3 separate regions of the Homo sapiens genome follow, and all the other regions are linked to region 1. The links come from fine-mapping of genetic effects on gene expression. A gene starts in region 1. Each other region holds a variant in brackets. All regions are shown on one strand. Distances are between the middles of the regions. Region 1 holds the start of TNFRSF9 (TNF receptor superfamily member 9). Region 2 overlaps TNFRSF9 (TNF receptor superfamily member 9). Region 3 overlaps CAMTA1 (calmodulin binding transcription activator 1).

What was found. PIP is the estimated chance that this variant, and not a neighbour inherited with it, causes the effect. A credible set is the group of variants that fine-mapping cannot tell apart.
Region 2: its variant is the best candidate, but not a certain one, in a credible set for the expression of TNFRSF9 in blood mononuclear cells (TOPMed, PIP 0.65).
Region 3: its variant is the best candidate, but not a certain one, in a credible set for the expression of TNFRSF9 in whole blood (TOPMed, PIP 0.83).

The regions. Positions count from the first base shown.
Region 1 is chr1:7,937,200-7,945,381 of GRCh38, reverse strand. TNFRSF9 (TNF receptor superfamily member 9) reads left to right here and starts at 4,543. Exons shown (of 8, transcript NM_001561.6): 1 at 4,543-4,598; 2 at 5,304-5,487; 3 at 6,554-6,661; 4 at 7,052-7,189; 5 at 7,626-7,692. The coding sequence starts at 5,388. RefSeq lists a silencer at 2,700-2,839.
Region 2 is chr1:7,908,570-7,916,751 of GRCh38, reverse strand. TNFRSF9 (TNF receptor superfamily member 9) reads left to right here. Exons shown (of 8, transcript NM_001561.6): 8 at 1-881. It also overlaps a transcript of UTS2 not described here. Among named protein-coding and RNA genes, the nearest start is that of TNFRSF9, 28 kb to the left of the region's middle. RefSeq lists an enhancer at 5,362-5,863. The variant T/C (reference allele first, on the strand shown) is at 4,611.
Region 3 is chr1:7,740,893-7,749,074 of GRCh38, reverse strand. CAMTA1 (calmodulin binding transcription activator 1) reads right to left here. Exons shown (of 23, transcript NM_015215.4): 17 at 4,053-4,240; 18 at 2,984-3,230; 19 at 1,294-1,365. Among named protein-coding and RNA genes, the nearest start is that of VAMP3, 26 kb to the left of the region's middle. The variant T/C (reference allele first, on the strand shown) is at 4,778.

The sequences.
Region 1 (8,182 bases):
CATCCCTATGCCAGCACCGTGCGCCAGACACCCAGTCACAGACGCAGCTCTGTGTTCATTGTGTTTGTGTGTTTGTGTCTCTGCTCTGGACAGAACATACTTAACAGCGTATTTGGATTGATGAACAATTTCTAAATATTTGGACACATGGTAAGCAGGCCTCTGTTTGTACTCTTGTCCTGGGGACTGCACAGTGTTGGGGGTGGTCTGAAGTTGGAGACAACTATTGATAAGCCTTAGCATATGAGTGGATGCCACCTGGAGAAAGGGCAGAACAAGGAGGAAAGGTGAGCAAAGTCGATGGCTGCTGACACCCGCCTCTCCTTATGATTCGTACTTCCTTCTCCTTACTCTGCCTCCTTCCTCTTTGATTTCCTGCTCATTTTCTTTGTTCCAAGTTTAAAAACAATTTACTCCTTCCCAGGCCTCAGAACACCTACTGACATCACAAGCACCAGGTATGTCTAATAGTGACTACTAGTTTGGGTGTTTGGAGTAGGGGTGGCGACACTGAATCTTGAAAGAATAGATCTTTCAGGCAGAAAACAAGTGTAAACAGTGAATATCCCACGGAAGAGATTCCCTCTAAGATGCGCCCTGGAAGGGCGGAAGAATATTTTATAGGAAGCTTATTTTGAGGGCTTTCTCTTTCTAAATGTCTCCTTTATCCTGTTTAGAATTGTTGGGCCTTCATGCTATTTAGCCTCAAAGTATTTAGCTGCTTGAGATATTCAAGATTAGACCTATAGTCAATCAAAATGAAATAAAATCTATTTCTTGGTTTATTTATTTATTTATTTTTTTTTTATTTTATTTATTTATTTATTTTTTTGAGATGGAGTCTCGCCCTGTCGCCCAGGCTGGAGTGCAGTGGCACGATCTGGGCTCACTGCAAGCTCCGTGTCCCGGGTTCACGCCATTCTCCTGCCTCAGCCTCCAGAGTAGCTGGGACTACAGGCACCTGCCACAACGCCTTGCTAATTTTTTTTTGTATTTTTAGTAGAGATGGGGTTTCACCATGTTAGCCAGGATGGTCTCGATCTCCTGACCTTGTGATCCTCCCACCTCAGCCTCCCAAAGTGCTGGGATTATAGGCATGAGCCACTGCACCCGGCCTATTTCTTGGTTTAGAATGAGATGCTTAGGATGTGATGAAACAGATTATTAATACTGCTTAGGATGGATGAAACATATTATTAATATTATTAATACTGCTAAAGTGTTGCTGTCTTGTCGGGGTCATCTCTGATTTAGTTTGAGATGGTTTTATGGAATAGAAAAAGCTTTTGTTGCATTTGAAAGATTACAGGGCTACAATGGATAAAGCAATATGATACATGTTATAAAGCAAATGAAAATTATACCAAAAGAGTATTACACCTTTGGCTAGCTTAGATAGTATGTATATCTGGTTAACTATATAATTTGACTTAGCTTACTACGATGATTTTATACCACACAAAAATGCATGCAGTAACATGAATTCTTTTTTTTTTTTTTTTTGAGACAGTCTAGTTTTGTTGCTCAGGCTGGAGTGCACAGGTGCAAACATGGCTGACTGCAACCTCGACCTCCCAGGCTCAAGCAATCCTCCCATCCCAGCCTCCCAAGTAGTTAGAACCACAGGCACATGCCACCACACCCAGCTAATTTTTGTATTTTTTGTAGAGACAGGGTCTGGGCATCTTGTCCAGGTCATCTTGAACTCTTGGGCTCAAGCGATCCTCCTGCCTCAGCCTCCCTAAGTGCTGAGATTACAGGTGTGAGCCACTGTTCCCAGCCATGAATTTTTTAAACGCCTGAGTAAAGTTGAGCATAGCCTTCAGTAGCAGAATTCTGAAGTGGTTGACTTTGTTTAACTGTGGGCTGGCAAAACTAATGTTGAGACTCTTTTAGCTCAGTAAAGACTCTTATGTTACTGGCATAAAAGCCTGAAATAGTGAGCTAATTACTGTGCTGGGAAACTAAATATGTCACTTTCAGAGGAAGTAATGTCTCTGCCTACAGAATGTCCAAAACGTAGACTAGTGAGTAGCATTTAGTTAAATGAAATATGGCCCAGTTAAATGTCACACTGCAATGTTAAACAGAGTACCACATGTAAACAAGGAGATTACTTGGTTAGATGGTGACTTTCAAAGTGTTAGGAGGGGATCAGCAGTCCGATTTTTATGGTGTGACACTCTCACATTCAGCCAATTTCTGCCAAAGTGGGGCAAGGAGGGATCCCACAGATGTCACAGGTAAGATAACTCTCAGATGACCGTCAGTATTTGGGAACACATTTTGCAGGCAGCTCATGCGTTTTTCTCCTTTTCTGTCATGACTTGCCCTGTGGTGGCTCTACTGATGGTCAGTGTGGGAGGCAGGGAAGGAACATTTCAAACCAGTAAGTCTGATCATAGCAATTCCTACTTTCTTGAGAACTATGTGCCAAGCATTGAGCTAAGTATTTCATGCTCATCGTCTCATTTAATCCTCACTCACGAGGAAGATGTATGGTGTCACTGCACCTGTAAGATGTGCTTGCAAAAACAGAGTTAGGGAGGTTGAGAAATTTGCTCAAGATTACACAACTGAGGCAGGAGAATGGGGAACATGAGGCGTGAGAGAGCAAAGGGAATAAAAATCACTGGGAACCGGTAACCCCCCTCACCCCCGAGAGTGGCCAGGGAGAGAGAGGCTGCCTGAGGGAAGGAAGCTCGGCAGGACCCGCTGCAGACCCAGGGCCAAGGGAAGTCCCGCGGGAGGAAACGCGGGCGCGGTGGGGCTGGCTCCAGGCACGCGGGCCAAGGGCGGGAGGGTCGGACACGAAGCCACAAGGCTCCTTTCCTTCCTCCTCCTTCCCGTCTGCCTTCTTCTGCTTCTGCGGCCTGATCTCCGAGTCCCTCTGCCTGCAGGCGGCGGCAGAACGTCCGCATCTGTCCGCATCTCAGCGCTGTCCCCCAACCGAGTCGCGCCGCGTTTTCCTCTTCTGTCGGGAGAGCTCGTGCTGGGAACCGCGGGGCAGGAGGACGGCCCAAGCTACTCTCGATGTCCTTCCCCAGCCCACGCCTGCCCCAGCCACAGTTCCCCTGGTTTTCCTGAGGTTCTCCAGCTGCTCAATGATGGGCAGGTTCATCTACAGCCTGGAGCAGCCGCCTCCTCCTCCTCCTCCTCCTCCTCCTCCTCCTCCAGAAACACCCCTTTTTCCTTCTCCTCATTCTTCCTTCTCATTCTTTCTCCTCCTCACTCTTCCTTCTCCTCATTCTTCCGTCTCATTCTTTCTCCTCCTCATTCTTCCTTCTCCTCTTCCTCTTCCCCTTCTCTTTCTGTTCTTTTCTTCTTCCTCCTCCTCCTCCTTTTCTCTTTATTTTTCTCCTCCTCCTCCTCTTCTCCCTCTTCTTTCTCCTTATACTCCTCCTCTCCTCTTACTGTACTTTTTTTTCCTTCTGCTTTCTCTGCCCTCCTCTTCCTCTTCTTCTTCTTCTTCTTCTTTTTTTTTTTTTTTTTGTGGCTGGAGTGCAGTGGCGCAATCTCGGCTCACTGCAACCTCTACTTCCCAGGTTCAAGCGATTCTCCTGCCTCAGCCTCAGTAGCTGGGATTAAAGGGGTCCACCGCCACCATTCCCTGCTAATTTTTGTAATTTTAGTAGAGACAGGTTTTTGCCATGTTGGACAGTCTAGTGTCAAACTCCTGACCTCAGATGATCCATCCACCTCGGCCTCCCAAGTGTTGGGATTACAGGCATGAGTCACCGCGCCTGGTCTCTTTCTCCTTTTTTTTTTTTTAAAGAAAAATTGAAATCATGGTTTTCTAAAAATCCCTCCTAGCTCTCAGCTTCACCGAACCACGTCCTGGTCATTGACTTGCCGTGTGACTGCTGTGCTTCCCCTGTTTCCATTTCCCTCCATTTCTCCCTCCTTCCTCCCTCTGTCACCCATGCCCGGAGGAGCACGATAAGGGACCAGGCCGACCTGGGTTCCAACCCTGCCTGCTCCCTGTCCTGTTGACGCTCTAATTCCACTTGCAGCCCCACTTTCCTCATTTGCATAGTGTTCTCCCAGTAACAACAGCAGTCATACCAAGTTCTAGGGTTCTTTCGAGGATAGTGTGTATTCACCGCAGTGCATCTCTGATGCCTGGCACATCGGCTGTGCTCAAGTAATGGCAGCTATTGCATTACAGTGACTATGGAGTTAGGGGACCGCATATGGCAAAATGCTGATCACTGTTTTGAATTTGGTTTCATTCCTCTAATCTCAAATCCAGTGTTTTAAGGACATGCTAAATGCTTTGTCCTGGAGAGCTATCTTAAGGGACAAAATCGTTTTCCCAGCGTCATCTGTGACACATCCTGACAGTAGAGAGCTGCTTCCAAGAAGCAATTTGAAGTGCCATTATCAGGCAGGGACGGGGGCTCTAGGGGATTTCGGGGTCAGCAGATATGAAATGAATGATTTCATAGGGCTGTCACAGAGCTGTGGTGGGAATTTCCCATGAGACCCCGCCCCTGGCTGAGTCACCGCACTCCTGTGTTTGACCTGAAGTCCTCTCGAGCTGCAGAAGCCTGAAGACCAAGGAGTGGAAAGTTCTCCGGCAGCCCTGAGATCTCAAGGTCTGTCCATCTGGGGGAGTGGGTGGGGGCACTGAGAAGGGGTGAGATTGGAACTTTTGCTCCCTTTGCCCATTTCTAGACTTTTTCTCCTAATATGTAATAACTTCTCTTCAATAGCCCTTTAAATAAACATCAATAACTTAGCCTGAAGAGTTTTTCACTCCTTAGTTTTGTTACCATACAAACTTCACATCTCAAAACATGTCTCTGTTTAAGAAAATGTGTTAGTGAGTTGAACAGGGAGGTCTTTCCACATGTTAGTAGTTAGGTGTTCAGCTAAAGGGGGAAGAGTGATTATGTGATAGCTTCTTCTTGAACTGAATTGTCTGATGCCCCTGACAGATTCTCTTTGTAAGGAGTTTATTTCAGGGGCAATAAGTAATTGGCATTATTGCTGGTTGGTACTGCAAAGTACCTATGAAAGTCCCCAAAAGTTCTTGCTATTGTTATTTCTGCATTTTGGCAGAACATGATGGAAAATGCACCCTCAAACTTTGGCAAACCGGCACAAAGCTGTGTGTTTAATCACGCCTGCCTTGTCCTAGTGGTTTCTATGAATCTGCTACTTTTCCGTAATATTGCATCATTAATTGTTCCTGAAAAACCCTGAGTTATCCTCTTATAGAATTGTATAAGTAATGATTGCAATATAGATAATTTTGAAAGGAGAAACCACCTTTCCTTGGAAATGTTTATCTTTTGCAGAGTGACATTTGTGAGACCAGCTAATTTGATTAAAATTCTCTTGGAATCAGCTTTGCTAGTATCATACCTGTGCCAGATTTCATCATGGGAAACAGCTGTTACAACATAGTAGCCACTCTGTTGCTGGTCCTCAACTTTGAGAGGACAAGATCATTGCAGGATCCTTGTAGTAACTGCCCAGCTGGTGAGTACCCAGTTATCATGTGCATTTGATCTGCTCTGTTGGAAGTATGGTTCAGTTAGTCTAGTAGTCAGGGCTAACGAGCTCCCTTTTAAGGAAAGGAAAATGAAAATTCATTCATTTACAAATGTTTATTGGATGCTACAACCTAGCTGTGTGAACACAGCAAAGTCATTCAACCTCTTGTGCCTTGACTTTCTCATCTGGGGATAATAAGAGAACCTGTTTTATAGGATGGCTGGGAGGATCAAATGAAGGGCTTAGAACAGTGCATGGCACAAGGCAAGACTTCAATAAATGTTAGTTTTGTGTGTAGGGCTTTGTGCTCCGACTGGGGGCATAGCAGCGAGTAAGCGCGTAGTAAAGGGCTTAACAGAGTGGGGACGGTCAGTCGCATTTAAATTTTAGTGTAGGACATTGATGTCCTCCTGGATCCAGTCATATTCATCTCCTACATCAATCAAGATAATCATTTTGTTTTATTCAATAGATAAAGTATTTTCTTTCTGTTGATTTATTTGTTACAATATCTGGTTTTTTTGTTTTTTTTGTGTGTGTATGTTTTTTTTTTTTTTTTTGAGACACAGTCTCACTCTGTCGCCCAGGCTGGAGTGCAGTGGCACGATCTCAGCTCACTGCAACCTTGGCCTCCCAGGTTCAAGCAATTCTCCTGCCTCAGCCTCCCGAGTAGCTGGGATTACAGGTGTGCACCACTGCGCCTGGCTAATTTTTGTATTTTTAGTAGAGACAGGATTTCACCATGTTGGCCAAGCTGGTCTTGAACTGCTGACCTCAGGTGATCTGCCCGCTTCGGCCTCCCAAAGTGCTGTGATTACAGGCGTGAGCCACTGCACCTGGCCTGTATTTTGTTATTTCTAATTCTGTGATTACACAAAGAATAATCTTGCAAATGTATTGTTTTAGGAAGTCAATCAAACTAATGTCCACCACTGTGGCATCTAGAAAACTCATCATTCTTTTATAATCTTATTTTATTGTAAACTTCGGAATGCCTTGGGTGACGATTGCCCATTGTCAAACGTGTACCACTATTGTCTGCCTTTCTTAGGTACATTCTGTGATAATAACAGGAATCAGATTTGCAGTCCCTGTCCTCCAAATAGTTTCTCCAGCGCAGGTGGACAAAGGACCTGTGACATATGCAGGCAGTGTAAAGGTATGAGTTCAAAGATATTTTCTTCTTCTAGAAGATAGTTGGGAAGATAAGCTTTTCTTTCCCATTTACTAACTGCTCTCTTTTGAAAATCTCAAGTGTCAAAGACTGATTCTTCTGCCAACCAGCAGGTCTAGGACAATAATATCCAGTGACAGCAATTATTTGTGGACTGAGCTTTCTAAATATTAGAGGAAACATTCATTTGACAAGAGAGAAGTTTTTACTTACCTAAATGTAAAAATGTCTTTATGGAGATTTAAAAGTAAACTTTAAAATTACTGGGAACACTATAAGTAGAGTGAGCATGATTTTTACTGCAGAGCATAAATTCGCTTCCTGGATTTGGAGGTCAAGTGTAATAAAATGTTGGGGGCTGGGGGGACTTTGTAGGTGTTTTCAGGACCAGGAAGGAGTGTTCCTCCACCAGCAATGCAGAGTGTGACTGCACTCCAGGGTTTCACTGCCTGGGGGCAGGATGCAGCATGTGTGAACAGGATTGTAAACAAGGTCAAGAACTGACAAAAAAAGGTACGTTTGCGTTTCTTTGATCTAGTGTAGTTTTGTGACATAGACAAACTTAGCTTTGATCTTGATCCTTTGAAAATAAACAAACAGATTTGTAGAACCTTAAAGTAACAAGGGAGTATATGATATATCATATTTTAATTAATAAAATATTTCAATTAATAAAATATTTCCGTTATTTCTTCATAAATGGAAATAATTTGAAATCAGAACATTTGTTAATTGCCAGAACCATTAATCTTCACATGTTCCAGACATATACAATACTTTATGTACAATTAAAATAAAAACTAGCCATCTTAGGGTGTTGTTTCAAGAATTATTGAACAATTTGTGCAGATTGCATTATGGTAATGACTTATATTAAGTTCATCACAGGAAAAGTTACAAAATGATGAAAATGCTTCCCTTTTATTATTGCTTTCATTTTTAATACAAGGTTGTAAAGACTGTTGCTTTGGGACATTTAACGATCAGAAACGTGGCATCTGTCGACCCTGGACAAAGTACGTATAATTTCCTTTAGTTTATGGAATAAAGAATCTGGGTTAAATTTTTTGGAAGATAAGGAATGCTATCATTGAAGCTTTTTTGCACCCATCAAGTGTAGACAGAATGTAACATACTAATAGGCAGCGTGGGAACACTGTGAGGTCGTAGCAACTCAATAGGCAAAGTGGGCATTTTCTCCAGAAATAGTGCCTGGAACATCTAGATCAGAATTGCCAGTGGAGGCTGGGCACGTGCAGTGGTTCACGCCTGTAATCCCAGCACTTTGGGAGGCTGAGACAGGAGGACTCCTTGAGCCCAGGAGTTCAAAACCAGCCTGGGTGAGACCCTGTCTCTACAAAAAATCAAAAAATTAGCCAGGCATAATGGCACATGCCTGTGGTCCCAGCTATAGGGAAGGCTGATGAGGCAGGAGGATCACCTGAGTCTGGGAGGTTGAGGCTGCAATGAGCTATGATCGCACCATCGCACTCCAGAGCAGAGAGC
Region 2 (8,182 bases), 29 kb after region 1:
AATTCTTGCCAAATAGTAGGCAAAGCAAAGCTTAGGAAGTATACTGGTGCCATTTCAGGAACAAAGCTAGGTGCGAATATTTTTGTCTTTCTGAATCATGATGCTGTAAGTTCTAAAGTGATTTCTCCTCTTGGCTTTGGACACATGGTGTTTAATTACCTACTGCTGACTATCCACAAACAGAAAGAGACTGGTCATGCCCCACAGGGTTGGGGTATCCAAGATAATGGAGCGAGGCTCTCATGTGTCCTAGGTTACACACCGAAAATCCACAGTTTATTCTGTGAAGAAAGGAGGCTATGTTTATGATACAGACTGTGATATTTTTATCATAGCCTATTCTGGTATCATGTGCAAAAGCTATAAATGAAAAACACAGGAACTTGGCATGTGAGTCATTGCTCCCCCTAAATGACAATTAATAAGGAAGGAACATTGAGACAGAATAAAATGATCCCCTTCTGGGTTTAATTTAGAAAGTTCCATAATTAGGTTTAATAGAAATAAATGTAAATTTCTATGATTAAAAATAAATTAGCACATTTAGGGATACACAAATTATAAATCATTTTCTAAATGCTAAAAACAAGCTCAGGTTTTTTTCAGAAGAAAGTTTTAATTTTTTTTCTTTAGTGGAAGATATCACTCTGACGGAAAGTTTTGATGTGAGGGGCGGATGACTATAAAGTGGGCATCTTCCCCCACAGGAAGATGTTTCCATCTGTGGGTGAGAGGTGCCCACCGCAGCTAGGGCAGGTTACATGTGCCCTGTGTGTGGTAGGACTTGGAGAGTGATCTTTATCAACGTTTTTATTTAAAAGACTATCTAATAAAACACAAAACTATGATGTTCACAGGAAAAAAAGAATAAGAAAAAAAGACCTTATTTTAAAAAGCTTTTTATAACTGTTGCAACATCATATCATAAAGGGTAATCATGAAATAAGGTGCCATTCTTTGTAAACTTTGGCTTTTAGTGCCGAAGGATGCTAAAGATTTCCAGTATGAGATTCCTTTTGCTTTCAACAATTGACTTATTAGTTACATAAAAATGGATGCTGTTGATCGGGTGCAGTGGCTCACACCTGTAATCCCAGCACTTGGGGAGGCCAAGGGGGGTGGATCACCAGAGGTCAGGAGTTCAAGACCAGCCTGACCAATATGGTGAAACCCTGCCTCTACTAAATAATACAAAAATTAGCCGGGCGTGGTGGCATGCACCTGTAATCCCAGCTACTTGGGAGGCTGAGGCAGGAAAATCACTTGAACTTGGGAGACGGAGGTTGCAGTGAGCCAAGATCCCACCACTGCACTCCAGTCTGGGCGACAGAGCGAGACTCTGTCTCAAAAAAAAAAAAAAAAGAAGAATGCTGTTTTTGGCCAGTCACAGTGGCTCACACCTGTAATCCCAGCACTTTGGGAGGCTGAGGCGGGTGGATCACATGAGGCCAAGAGTTCAAGACCAGCCTGGCCAACATAGTGAAACCTCATCTCTACTAAAAATACAAAAATTAGCCAGGCATGGTGGCACACGCCTGTAATACCAGCTACTCGGGAGGTTGAGGCACAAGAATCACTTAAGCCTGGGAGGTGGAGGTGGCAGTGAGCTGAGATCACACCACTGCACTCCAGCCCGAGAGACAGAGTGAGACTCTGTCTCAGGAAAAAAAAAAAAAAAAAAAAAAAAATGCTGTTTTCCCAGCTTGGGCAACATGGTAAAACCCCATCTCTACCAAAAATACAAAAAATTAGCTAGGCATGGTGGTGCATGCCTGTAGTTCCAGCTACTTGGGGGGCTGAGGTGGGAGGATCATTTGAGCCCAGGAGGTCGAGGCTGCAGTAAGCCATGAATGCACCACTGCCCTTCAACCTGGATGACAAAGTGAGACCTTGTCTCAAAAAAAAGAAAAAACTGTTGTTACATCAATATTGATTCAGATAGCTGTATTTAAAATTCACTAAGCCATTGAAGCCTTTCAAACAACTTTTCCAAATTCATTGAAGAGGCAGATTCTGACACATTCATTGAAGATGCTGACTATTGGATCCAAATGACTCCTTCACTGAACTAGCAGCCATCCAGGTGTCTACTCTGCACCAGGAACCACATCAGGACACAAGCACAAGGATAAAACTCACTTCCCACCTGGAACTTTCATTCTAGGGGAATGACATGTCTAACCTGATAAGATCCACACATCCACATGATAAGGTAAAACTCACTTCCTGCCTGGGAACTTTCATTCGAGGGGAATGACATGTCCAACGTGTTAAGATCCACATTGGGGTACAAGATGCTTTCTCTAAGAGGAATCTTCATTCAACACAACGCCACCAGGCACCAAGCACCATGGATGGACGGCAAAAGGGGAGTGAGAGCAGCTGCCCTCCTGGTGCTCACGGTGGCGGGTGGGGGGGATGTGGGGAAGGGGCAGCTGTGCACCAGGGAGCTCCGCTGGGAGGCAGGGGAGGGAGGGATGGAGTTGGGGGACGGGGAGGGGGAAGGGGGAGGGAAGGGGGCGGGGGAGGGAGGGGGGAGGGGGGAGAGGGAAGGGAGGGAAAGCGGGATGCAGAGGAAGCGATGCCTGTCCAGGCAGTGTGCTTCTCAGAAGGAGCCATGGGCCCAGGCACATGGGAGGGAGAGTTGGGGCTGGGATTGAGGAGAGGGGAAGGAAGCCACAGGGTGAGCAGGGACCAGAGAGCCAGATTTTATAAGTTATATAAGAAACTCAGATTTTGGCCGGGTGCAGTGGCTCACACCTGTAATCCCAGCACTTGGGGAGGCCGAGGCGGGCGGATCACAAGGTCAGGAGATAGAGACCATCCTGGCTAAGACGGTGAAACCCCGTCTCTACTAAAAAATACAAAAAATGAGCCGGGCGTCGTGGCGGAGGCCTGTAGCCCCAGCTATTCGGGAGGCTGAGGCAGGAGAACGGAGTTAACCCGGGAGGCGGAGCTTGTAGTGAGCCGAGATCGCGCCACTGCACTCCAGAAAAAAAAAGAAAAACAAACAAAAAAAAAAACCCTCGGATTTTAGTTAGAAGCAGTGGCTCACCCTGTAATCCCAGCATTTTGGGAAGCCAAAGTAGCAGGATCCCTTGAGGTCTGGAGTTCAAAACCAGCCTGGGCAACATAGTGAGATTCTGTCTCTTAAACAACAACAAAAAAAAAACAAAAAAAAAGCAGCTTTGATTTTAACATGTGGTCACTAGGAAGCCAGTGAAGAGATTTGATTGGATTTGCCTTTTAGAAAGTGCTCCCTGACTGCAGGGAGGGTGTAACTGAAACGCGGGTTAGTCACTCACTTGCAGACTCCGATTAACAAGAGCGAGGTGTGGTATGAAGACAGTGATTTATCCCAAAGCTAGCTTAGGGGAAGAAATACAGGTGTCCTATCTTAAGTGTCCCGCTTCACCTTTGGAGCAGAAAGACGGCACGTTGAAAAGGCAGGGGAGGAAGTGAGCAGGGCCGGGCGTGGTCTGCAGGCTAGATCTAGTGCTTTATCTACTGGGCGGCTGAGCTAGAGACTGCCGGTGCCTTCATGGGCAGGACTAGGCCGAAAACTCCCCAGGTAGGACAGAGTCCCATATCTCTCACGTCTCTTGGTGGGAGGGAGTTCCGAGGCAACCTCCTGGAGGGTGGGAGTTCCGTAGCAGGCATGCATGCTTTGGTTTGTAAATCGACTATTAGCTCTTGAGGAGAGTCTTGGAGCACAGAGTTAGAGGAACTTGCCCTCTATAAAAACAAAAAAAAAAAAAAAGAAAAAGCTATACTTGCATTTTAAAGGGCAAAGTAGGAAGTGGGGAACCAGGGGAATGAGAAAAGGAGAGAGAGAGAGAAAAAAAAAATAAACGATTTCTTAGAAAAATGGGGGTACGTGGTTACAAGTGAATGGAGACAGGAATACTGCAGAGGGGACTGCTGGCTCCTGGCAGGGCAGAGTGAGAAGTCCTGGGATGGAGCTTGGGGAGGGAGGAGAGCTGTTCCAGGGACAGCTCTGGACTCTGTGGGGGCCCCAGTGGAGGGCACATGAGGTCACAGGCAGAGCCAGAGGGATCACCGGAAGTTGGGAGTTCGAGACTAGCCTGGCCAACATGGTGAAACACCGTCTCTACTAAAAATATAAAAAAGTTAGCCGGGCATGGTGACACACACCTGTAGTCCCAACTACTCAGGAGGTTGAGGCAGAAGAATCACTTGAACCTGGGAGGTGGAGGTTGTAGTGAGCTGAGATCATGACACTGCACTCCAGCATGGGCAACAGAGTGAGATTTCATCTCAAAGAAAAACAACAAGAAAAGGGGGATTTGCGTGTTATAAAGTTCCTGCCCAGGTTCCCAATCAGGTCTGTTTATGCAAATGAAAGACTGAAACTTGCTTAGTTTTGATTGGTTTATGCCGCTGAGTCCTCATTAGTCGATACAGCTGAGCCCTGGTTGGTGGAGGCAGGTGAGCTCCAAAAGTCCCAACATTAAGAAGGTGCTGGTTTTCAGGAATCTCAGAGTACCTGTGTGACTTCTAGTTAGCAAATGGCTAACTATTTTAGCCATTTGGCTCTATTTTAAATTTAGGCTCAGTTAGCCACTAGGGATCTATCTTGAAGAATTCCC[T/C]CTTTCAGGTTCATATTTCTTCACAGAAATAAAACAGTGTGACCACAGTGAGAAAGAGATGAGCCTGTCAAACCCAGATCAGGGAGATAAGATGGTATTTGACCAGCACATGCTGGCATACCAAAGAAATCCCTGGATGATAGTTCTTAAAGATTTCTTTTCACTACTGTTGTTTATTTAAGGTATATAACAAGCCAGAATCCACAGAAAAGTCTTCCATCTGATTTTTTTTTTTTTTTTTGAGACAGAGTCTCACTCTGTCGCCCAGGCTGGAGTGCAGTGGCGCGATCTTGGCTCACTGTAACCTCCGCCTCCTGGGTTCAAGCGATTCTCCTGCCTCAGCCTCCCGAGTAGCTGGGATTACAGGCACCTGCCACCACTCCCGCTAATTTTTGTATTTTTAGTAGAGACGGGGTTTCGCCATGTTGGCCAGGCTGGTCTCGAACTCCTGACCTCAGGTGATCCACTGCCTAGGCCTCCCAAAGTGCTGGGATGACAGGGGTGAGCCACTGTGCCTGGCCTGATATACTTAATTAAACAATTTTGAGGCCATTTAGTGTCAGGGTTAACTTCACGGGCTTTGGACCCAGTAATTTTGAGGTTGGATTGCAGCCACCACCTTTTCGTAGCAGAGGGTCCTTAGGCAGTTTACATAATCCTCTAAACCCTGGTTTCTTCATCTGTAAAATTACGTGGGGCTGTTTCAAAGAATAAATGAATAAGGTATTTAGCCCAGTGCCTCACACAAATCAAGCACCCAGTAAATGCTCTTCTTGGATTCTCATTTAATAAACATGAGTAACGTATTTAGCCATGCTCAGTACAATAACACTCACTTCTATTAAGTAATTTAGAATTTCTGATGCAAGAAATGCTTATAATTCAGTGCAATTATGATCACACATCCTGCAATTGTGCTGTTTCCAAATATAGACCCTGGTTCTAAGAGGTCCCAAGAAGGCAATCGAAGCAAACTGTGTAATGTGGGGGACACCCGCTGTGCACCTTTGCGGTCTGATAGCCGTCTTGGGTCCCAATTCCTCCTTATTCACTACAAAAGTACTGGGAAGTTGAAATGAGCCTGGGCTTCCCTTTGATGTAAGGCATTCTGTAGAGGCAGTCACGGTGGCTCACACCGAGATGGGAGGATCGCTTGAGCCCAGGCATTCACGACTAGCCTGGGCAAGTTAATGAGGGTTAATGAGGCCTATGTCACCACAGAATATAATTTAAAAAAATTAGCCTGGCGTAGTGGCTCACGCCTGTAGTCCCAGCTACTTGGGAGGCTGAGGCAGGAGGATCACTTGAGCCCAGGAGGTTGAGGCTGCCAACAGGTTGAGTGAACCATGATTGTGCCACTGCACTCCAGCCTGGGAGACAGAGCAAGTCCCTGTCTGAAAAAAATCCCAAAAACAAACAAACAAAAAATATTCTGTTGGGGGCCAGTGGAAAATTTCTTCTTTGCTCTCTAAAGAGCTCCTGAAAATCAACTGACAAAAGCCAAATTAATAGGAGAAAAGGCATACAAATTTATTTGATCATAGTTTTATGTTACATGGGAGCCTTCAGAATGAAGACCCAAAGATACAGACGTCAATTTTTATGCTTAGGTTCAACAGAGTATGGACAGCCATGTAGAGATAGGATTGGACAAAAAGGCTCTGATCTGATGCTAGTGGACTGAGTGGGGAGACCCTGGGGGTTCTGTGTAGGGCCTTCTTGGCCTCTCTGTGCAGCCTTCATTCCTTCTGGGTGTGAGGCAGGACCCTCTCTGGAATGGGAGCCTGGTGACCTACAGCCAAACAAGGTAGGTCAGAGAATTTCTTTATGGCCGGTTTTTACAAAGAAAGGCAGGGTGGGCGGGCAGGGGGAGTTAGAGTAATCTTCTCAGGTTTTAAGGCTGGCTTTGGGAAAAAGGGGTTCTGGTTTCTGTGACCCACCTTGGGGAAGGGGGATTCATGTTTCATGGTAGCCTTTGCGGGGAGAATGAGGGGCCAGAGACAGGAGGGCAGGAGAAGTTTAGAGAAAAACTTGCTTCTGAGGCCTTCATTTTGAACTCCAGCAATGTCATATATTAAGCTTTACAAATGAATCCTCCTTAAACAACACGCTGTTACTTTTAAAAGGCAAGTTCCTGGATGGCTTGTGTAAGGTTAACACATACATATGCTTTGCAGATGAAAATGACTGTACTGTGTGTGCTTCTGTGGCACAAGAGTGCTGTTTAAGGCTGGGCGCGGTGGCTCACGCCTGTAATCTTGGGAGGTCAAGGCGGGCAGATCACTTGAGGTCAGGAGTTTGAGACCAGCCTGGCCAACATGTTGAAACCTCGTCTCTACCAAAAAATACAAAAATTAGCTGGGCGTGGTGGTGGGCGCCTGTAGTCCCAGCTACTTGGGAGGCTGAGACAGAAGAATTGCTTGAACCTGGGAGGCAGAGGTTGCAGTGAGCCGAGATTGTGCCATTGCACTCCAGCCTGGGTGACAGAGTGAGACTCCGTCTCAAAAAAAAATATAAAATAGTGCTGTTTAAGAACTTTTTAAAAATAAAATTCCTCTTTTGACCTAAATTTTTTTTTCTTTTTTTTTTTTTTTTGAGACAGAGTCTTGCTCTGTCATCCAGGCTGGAGTAGTGTAGTGGTGCGATCTCAGCTCACTGCGACCTCCACCTCCTGGGTTCAAGCAATTCTCCTCTCTCAGCCTCCTGAGTAGCTGGATTACAGGGGTGCACTACCATGCCTGGCTAATTTTTGTATTTTTAGCAGAGATGGGGTTTCACCATGTTAACCAGGCTGGTCTCGAACTTCCGAGCTCAGGTGATCCGCCCACCTCGGCCTGCCAAAGTGCTGGGATTACAGGCGTAAGCCCAGTACTAAAAAATATTTTTTAATTAACTTTCAAAAAGCTACGCTGATACGCTTTGGCTGTGTCCCCACCCAAATCTCATCTTGAACTGTAGCTCCCATAATCCCCGTGTGTCCTGGGAGGGACCTGGTGGGAGGTAATTGAATTATGGAGGCAGGTCTTTCCGCAATGTAAGATAAGCCTTTGAGGCCAGGCATGGTGGCTCACGGCTGTAATCCCAGCACTTTCGGAGGCCGAGATGGGTAGATCACAAGGTCAGCCTGGCCAATATGGTAAAACCCAGTCTCTACTAAAAATACAAAAATTAGCTGGGTGTGGTGGCACGCACCTGTAGTCCCAGCTACTCGGGAGGCTGAGGCAGAAGAATGGTTTGAACCTGGGAGGTGGAGGTTGCAGTGAGCCAAGATCATGCCACTGCACTCCAGCCTGGGCAACAGAGCAAAACTCCGTCTCAAAAAAAAAAAAAAAATTGTGCCTTTGCTCCTCCTTTGCCTTCTGTCATGATTGTGAGGCCTCCCCAGTCATGTGGAACTGTGAGTCCATTAAACCTCTTTTTCCTTATAAATTACAGTCTCAATTATGTCTTTATTAGCTGCATGAGAACAGAGTAATATATATGCCAATTTACATACCAATCAATGACGCAGAGCCACAAAATTTCTAAATCAGAGGGGAAATAGAAGTCAAGGCCCAGGGGGAGAAGTGGCC
Region 3 (8,182 bases), 200 kb after region 1:
CCATTAGGCAATTTTTAATATTTTATAACCACCTTGATAATGAGAAAGGCCTAATATTCATGTAATTTCTCTGAGCTTCAGCTTCTTCATCTGTAAACTGGAAATAAATACTGCTTACTTCAAATAATTGTAAAAAGGAAATGAGATGGGGCACCTAAAAAATCTAGTGCATACTAGCTGCCCCAAAAATATGACTTCCCTTTCCCATCTGACTAGTTACATAACCCTACAAGGTGGTTTGCAAACAGAAATACTGCATGAAAGAGTACTTAGATAATCTTCTTGCACCTTTAACTAAGGTGCACAAAAGCAGTTTAAGATGTTCTGAGCTTCTTCTGATTTTCAAAGATTTTAACAATTCTTCATTTTAAAATGGATAAGAAGCTGAAAGGAAAATGGCCAAAGATTAAATACCTTATATAATTCAAACTCAAAGGTAATAAATAGCCAGCATTTACTTTCTCCAATCACGGTATCACACCCTGGATTCCCTACAGTTCTCTAATTACTAGGGAGTTTATCAAAGTATTGGACCACGGATCCTCACTGCAAAGATACTGGTGTTAGGATCAGACCAGTATCTCAGGTAGGTAATATTACTAAAAGATCAAAAATTTGGACAAAAACCCTTTTGCGGTACAAGTCTAATTGCAGATGGTTTTATTTTGTTTTCCTCTGGTTTTTTTTTGAGACGAGGTCCAAGCTGGACATCAACACCTGGGTTCAAGAAGATCCTCCGGCCTCAGCCTCTTGAGGAGCTGGGATTACAGGCACACGCCATCATGTGTGGCTTCCCCTGTTTTTGTTTGTTTGTTTGTTTGTTTGTTTGTTTGTTTTATCATGGCAGTTCAAATTAAGTCTCTGGCCGGGCGCTGCGGCTCATGCTTGTAATCCCAGCACTTTGGGAGGCCAAGGCGGGCAGATCACTTGAGGTCAGGAGTTCAAGACCAGCCTGGCAACATGGTGAAACCCCGACTCTACTAAAACTAGAAAAATCAGCTGGGCATGGTAGCACACGCCTGTAGTCCCAGCTACTCGGGAGGCTGAGGCAGGAGAATCGCTTGAACCTGGGAGGTGGAGGTTGCAGTGAGCCCAGATCATGCCACTGCACTCCAGCCTGGGCGACACAGCCAGACTCCGTTTCAAAAAAAAAATAAAAAAAAAAAAACAACCAAAAAACAAATTAAGTCTCTGTAATGAGGTACTAGATGTAGTGCTCTTTAGCCAAACCAGGATCTTCAGTGGCCTTGGGTGGGGCACAGTTTCCTTCTGTGGTGCAAAACTGAGGTTTACCTGTTTATATTTTCTGTAACAACGCTGAATAACAGCAGCAGCTACTTCTTGCTGTTCCCGCAAGGGTCGGCCCTTAAGGGTAAAGTAAGGAGAAAAAAAATCAGTAATGATTAACTACCAGAAATGTCAGCTTTTTATTACTACTCATTTAATGCACCTTCTCAGAGTTGAGATCCCAGGTTTACCAAAAAATATTGATAATTAATTATAAATGAGGAAAAATGAATTTATAGAATAAACCTTAGACTATCCTTGCTTCTAAATAAAACTATGATATTGGAATGTTAAGCAGACTAAAAATATATTCCCTTTTAAAGTATTTAACAAATTAGGCATTGTACTGTTTGTCTTGCCAGATCTCAACTATCTTTCCTAAGATAACCCCAACTACTTTACTTTTGGATCAATGATTAATGGCTTTTAACACTTTTTTGGGAGTGGTTAGAGACTACTTTGAGAATCTGTAGAAAGCCATGGGTCCCCTTCCCACCAAAAATGCACACAGAAAAAGCTTTACTGCTTAATTTTAGGAGTTCAGGGGCTGCCTGGAGTCAGCCCCCAGGCCTCCAGTTGAAAACCCCTGCTTTAGGTCACGACCTCCTAGCAGCAGAGGGGTCACCTTACTTTATATTAACTGAATAATACGCATTATCATTACCAACAGTATGTTGACATGGTGATAACCATTACATTATTGGCTAACATTATTTTACTAAAGCTTCTGAGAATTATTTAATGTGACATTAATAACTTTAATTAAAAATTCTATGAACTCATGAAATTTGTTTTAAGGAATAATAAAGAGACATTGTACTCAGGATGGCAAGGTAGAATAGGAAAATCAAGGCTGGGTGCGGTGGCTCATGCCTGTAATCCCAGCACTTTGGGAGGCCAAGGCAGGCGGATCACTTGAGGTTAAGAGTTCGAGACCAGCCTGGCCAACATTGTGAAAACCTGTCTCTACTAAAAATACAAGAATTAGGCGGGTGTGGTGGCACGCGCCAGTAATTCCAGCTACTTGGGAGGCTGAGGCAGGAGAATCACCTGAATTGGGAGGTGGAGGTTGCAGTGAGCAGAGATTGCACCACTGCACTTCTCCAGCCTTGGCAACAGAATGAGACTCCATTTCAAAAAAAGAAAAAGAAAAATCAGCATTGTTCTGTGCCGGAAAAGCCCCATTCCCGCCCTGGCCTAACCATGGATGGGCCCTTGTCCCAGCCAGTTATTCTCTATGCCTCAGATAACTGAGAAGACTACGCTTCTGAAACTCTTCTATGAAGGTGCTTTAGGAACTTTGTAAACATTTGATAAAAATTTCATGTTTAACTGTTTAAAAATTGGTTGTTAAAAGCAAATGGTTTGGGAGAATGAGAAAGCTCTGGAAATGGGTAGCAGTGACAGTTGCACAGCACTGTGAATATACTTAATGCCCCCACACTGCACACTTTAAAACAGACAAAATGGCAAACTTTATGTTATGAATATTTTACCATAAAATATTTTTACAAAGCAGATACACACACAGATATGTTATATAGTGAATCTTAATAAATTGGAGACTTCCAAAAAAATTCTACAAATTCAGAGGAAAAAAAGAAATAGTAAATGTTTTTGTTCGCATGATTCTGACTTTCATCTGTCCTCTCTGATCTTAAGAATGTCACAAAACGAAGGTTCTGTTCTAGTTTACCTTGTATTTCCGGAAAGCTGTCTGGACAAGCCTGGCAGCCTCATAGAGTTCTCTCTGTTCATGATCAGACAGAGTGAGCTGAGCAAACTCATTCTCTACCTTCTCACTGGTAGATGCACTCAGGAATTCTGACCAATCCGCGGCGGAGGGAAGGTTAGGTTTCTCGAAAGCGATTTCACTGACGGGAGAGCCAACAGGGCTCAAGCTGGTATTAGAAGAAGGGGTTAGAGGCTCGTTATATGCACTTCTGAAACAAGAGGAGAAAAAGGAGAGACAGATTAATGATTGATTTGCACCACCCATTAGATATTAATGAATGAGCCAAGATGGTATCTGCCAGAAGCCACTGTGGGCAATTAGGAACATGCCTTCATTCAGTTAGGCAAGTTGCTAAACATACCCAGTGTCCTTCGATTGAGTAAGTTTATACTCAACACCTATCATAACTTTAGTACTATGCTAAATACTAAAACCTAGTAGCAGTACACTCTACTGCCATTAGAAAACTTCAGCTGAATTAGGGGGAAACATTATGCTACATTATCTCTCTTTTTTTTCTTTTTTTTGAGACAGAATCTTGCTCTGTTGCGCAGACTGGGGTGCAGTGGTGCAATCTCAGCTGATTGTAACCTCCGCCTCTTGGGTTCAAGCAATTCTCCTGCCTCAGCCTCCCAAGTAGCTGGGATTACAGGCGCCTATCACCATGCCCGGCTAATTTTGTATTTTTAGTAGAGACGGGGTTTTACCATGTTGGCCAGGCTGGTCTCAAACTCCTGACCTCAGGTGATCCACCCGCCTTGGCCTCCCAAAAGTGCTGGGATTACAGGCATGAGCCACCGCGCCCAGCTTAACACGATCTCTTATGCTCTGATAGCAGTAAAAAAAATAATGGGAGAGGTAGGAATAGGAGCTGGGCCTTGAAAGTGGCAACAGAGCTTGTCCTCATGCTTCCTTCCTTCCTTGGTATGGTCTTCTATGACACGGCATTCATCAAATACAATCAGCCTCCCCTGCCTCCAATTACATCCGGGAATCTATGCTGGGTAGTGACCTCCGTAACTTTACTCACCGGATCTGGGCAGCACTGGGAAGGCAGTCAGCATCCGCTAGATAACTGGCCAGCCAGCTCATTGTACTGCTAATGGTGGCAGGGTCTGTTCTTTCCAATCCTGAGGACTCCATGGGCACAAAATTCTCCTGCTTGATTCGGTCAGGTGTGGCTTCAATAATGTGTTCTGCCAAGGTCATCATGTTCACCTGAAGTCAGAAGTTCACAGAACACTCAGGTTAGAAAGGAACCTTACAAGTTATCCAGGTCTACCTCCCTGCCTCGCCTTGGAGAGAAAAAAATAATCAGGCAGGAGGGCAGACTTCCACCTCAATCCAATGCAATGAAATACCATTTTAAGGTTATAACATAACACACCAAAATGTGCTGAGATCCTGAGACCTGATTATCTCCAAGTCATAGTCTGGCCCCAAACCTTTAGTCCAGTCTTGGAGAACTTCTGGCTTGTATGTACTCCCTACTCTCAGGGTCAACCAATTAATGACACTGGGCAGTTCTAGAGTAACCTGTAATATTAATGAGGTGTCACTATTAGTTACATAACCAATATCTAACCACCCCCTTTTGTCTGGCCTAGAGAACCCCGGTCTAGGCTGGGAACAGTGGCTCATGCCTGTAATCCCAGCACTTTGGGAGGCCGAGGTGGGTGGATCACTTGAGGTCAGGAGTTCCAGACCATCCTGGCCAACATGATGAAACCCTGTCCCTACTAAAAATACAAAAAT[T/C]AGCCAGGTATGGTGGTGCTTGCCTATAATCCCAGCTACGTGGGAGGCTGAGGCAGGAGAATCACTTAAACCTGGGAGGTGGAGGTTGCAGTGAACCAAGATCGCGCCACTGCACTCCAGCCTGGGCGACAGCGCGAGACTCCAACTCAAAAAAAAAAAAAAAAAAAAAGAGGCCAGGCGCAGTGGCTCACGCCTGTAATCCCAGCACTTTGGGAGGCCAAGGCTGGCGGATCACGAGGTCAGGAGATTAAGACCATCCTGGCTAACACGGTGAAACCCCGTCTCTATTAAAAAATACAAAAAATTAGCTGGGCGTGGTGGCGGGCGCCTGTAGTGCCAGCTACTCGGGAGGCTGAGGCAGGAGAATGGCATGAACCTGGGAGGTGGAGCTTGCAGTAAGCCAAGATCGCGCCACTGCACTCCAGCCTGGGCGACAGAGTAAGACTCCGTCTCAGAAAAAAAAAAGAAAAGAAAAGAAAAAAAGAATCCTCAAAGCTGGTCTGGATTAAGATATTCTTTATGAGAATCAGAGATGTGGACTGATTCTTAAAAATGTCCTTGCATACCTCTTAGGAGTGGTAACTGAAACACAGCACTTCGGGTTCTTAAGTGAACTGAAAATGTTCTCGATGGAACTATACAAAGTGACAAAATGCTTCTCCTGCCAACACGAAGGAGCCTCAACAACATCCTGCTAAGTGGAAACAGCCGCAGTGGGCTGCATGGTGCATGATTCCACTTACATGAAATGTCTAGAAAAAGCAAACCTCTGGGGATAGAATCAGATCAGTGGTTGCCTAAGGCTGGGCAGAGACGGACTGCAGATGGGCACAGGGCACCGTGCAGTGAGATGGAAGTGTTCTAGAAAGGGACTATGGTGATGGTTGCTCAGCTGTATATGTTTACTAGAAGCCATCCCCTGAGCATTTAAAATGGGTAAATTTTATCATACGTAAATTATACCTCAATAAAGCTGTTAAAAATGCTTATTGTGGATAATTTTATAAATTTTTTATCATACGTAAATTATACCTCAATAAAGCTGTTAAAAATGCTTATTGTGGATAATTTTATAAATTTTCATCAAAGAACAATTCGTTTTTGTAATAACAATAAAAATAAAAAATTTAAGAAAAATATATTGGGCCAGGCGTGGTGGCTCAGGCCTGTAATCTCAGCACTTTTGTGAGGCCGAGGCGGGTGGATCGCCTGAGCTCAGGAGTTCAAGCCCAGCCTGGGCAATATGGCGAAACCCTGTCTCTACCCAAAAAAACCCCCAAAATTAGCCAGATATGGTGGTGCAGGCCTAGTGCTTTCTTACAGTATCTGTAATCCCAGATACTAGAGAGGCCAAGGCAGGAGAATTGCTTGAACCCAGGAGATGGAAGTTGCAGTGAGCCAAGATGGCACCACCGCACTCCAGCCTGGGTGACATAGCAAGACTCTGTCTCAAAAAAAAATTGCAGCTTTCTTTCACCTTCTCTATTGGCCGTCTTGATTTGTGACTCAAACGGTAGGAAGTAAATCTTGCTTTATTCTTTTTCCATGAAAGTATTCAAATATATTAAAAGTAAGGTGGAATTTCTGAAGCCTAAAAGGTTATCACTCTACAATCACTTTCCTAAATCCTCCATTTTATAAACATGTAACAATGTAAAAACATCTTAAGTAACGTTCTCAGTAGTTGGACCTGAAAAGTCACGTCACTCATTTCTAAATTTCATGGATTGTGCTCAGAGAAGACGGCCTTTAAATGGGTAGCTTTGGATTTTTATTCAAATTTTCTTCGTGTCCTAGTATATGAGCAGTTTTCATAAACATGCCTTGGACACCTGAAAAGAACAATTATATACGTAGTTGCTATGTGTATTAACTACATACACACATATAGTTATATATAAGTATATCATATATTAAATCTATCATATAGTAAATATATATGAAATCAAGCCTTCTGATTTTGTTGTTCAACTTGTTCATATGCTTTTCATATCTACTTGATCTGAAAAATTCTGAGCTATGTGTGTTAGTAGCACACTGTGATTATGGGTCCACATTTCTTTGTATTTACTAGTATTTGCTGTAATGTTTCAAGGTTATGGTGCTAGGTACACAATAGTTTATAACTGTCATATCTTCTAGATAAACTGTATGTATATATATATGTATATATACACACACACATTAATTTGCCTTGAATTGTACTTTTTATCTTTCTTTTTATACTCGTTTATCTATTATAGCTGTTATCTATCATTTCATTTTCATTGTTTCTCTTTCATTTCATTTTGATTGTATTTCTTACAAGTAGCATATAGTATATCCTGCTTTTATTTAAAAAAAAAAAAAAAAACAACCCGAGGCCGGGCATGGTGGCTCACACCTGTAATCCCAGCACTTTGGGAGGTGGAGGCAGGCAGATCACAAGGTCAGGAGATCGAGACCATCCTGGCTAACACAGCAAAACCTCCACCTCCAGGGTTCAAGCAATTCTTGTGCCTCAGCCTCCCGAGTAGCTGGGATTACAGGGACCTGCCAACACACCTGGCTAATTTTTGTATTTTTAGTAGAGACGGAGTTTCACCATGTTGGCCAGGCTGGTCTCGAACTCCTGAACTCAGGTGATCCTCCCACCTTGGCCTCCCAAAATGCTAAGAATACAGGCATGAGCCACCGCACCTGTCCTTCTGTAGCCCGTTTTTATGCTACCTACCAACTTAACATTTTTTTTTTTTTGAGAGAGAGTCTCGCTCTGTCGCCCAGGCTGGAGTGCAGTGGTGCGATGTCGGCTAGCTGCAAGCTCTGCCTCCTGGGTTCACGCCATTCTTCTGACTCAGCCTCCCGAGTACTGGGACTACAGGTGCCCGCCACCATGCCTGGCTAATTTTTTATATTTTTAGTAGAGACGGGGTTTCACCGTGTTAGCCAGGATGGTCTTGATCTCCTGACCTCGTGATCCGCCCGCCTCGGCCTCCCAAAGTGCTGGGATTACAGGTGTGAGCCACCGCGCCCGGCCAACATTTCTAACTAGCATATTTCAGCCTATCCAGCGCACATCTATCTATATCACGAGTGGAACAAAATCTGTTACTGTCCCTGAACCCGAGAGCTTTCATACACTTTTACTCTCTTCATTTCCCTACACTCCCTGGTTTTGTTAAAATAATTTAGAATTTTAGTTCTAGGAGATAGTTTAAACATTATTCGTCTTCTATTTAAAGAGTCCCTTCCTAACAAATTCCTCTCACATATACCACACTATCGATAATTGCTCAGTTTTACTGTTTGATTGTTCACTCCTCTATGAACGGTTTTGCCACTTTTTCTAAAATTATTTCATTATTTTTAAGTGTTATCTTCTCATTTGGCTAAAAAACTTTCTTTAGACTGCTGCTTTTTTCATAG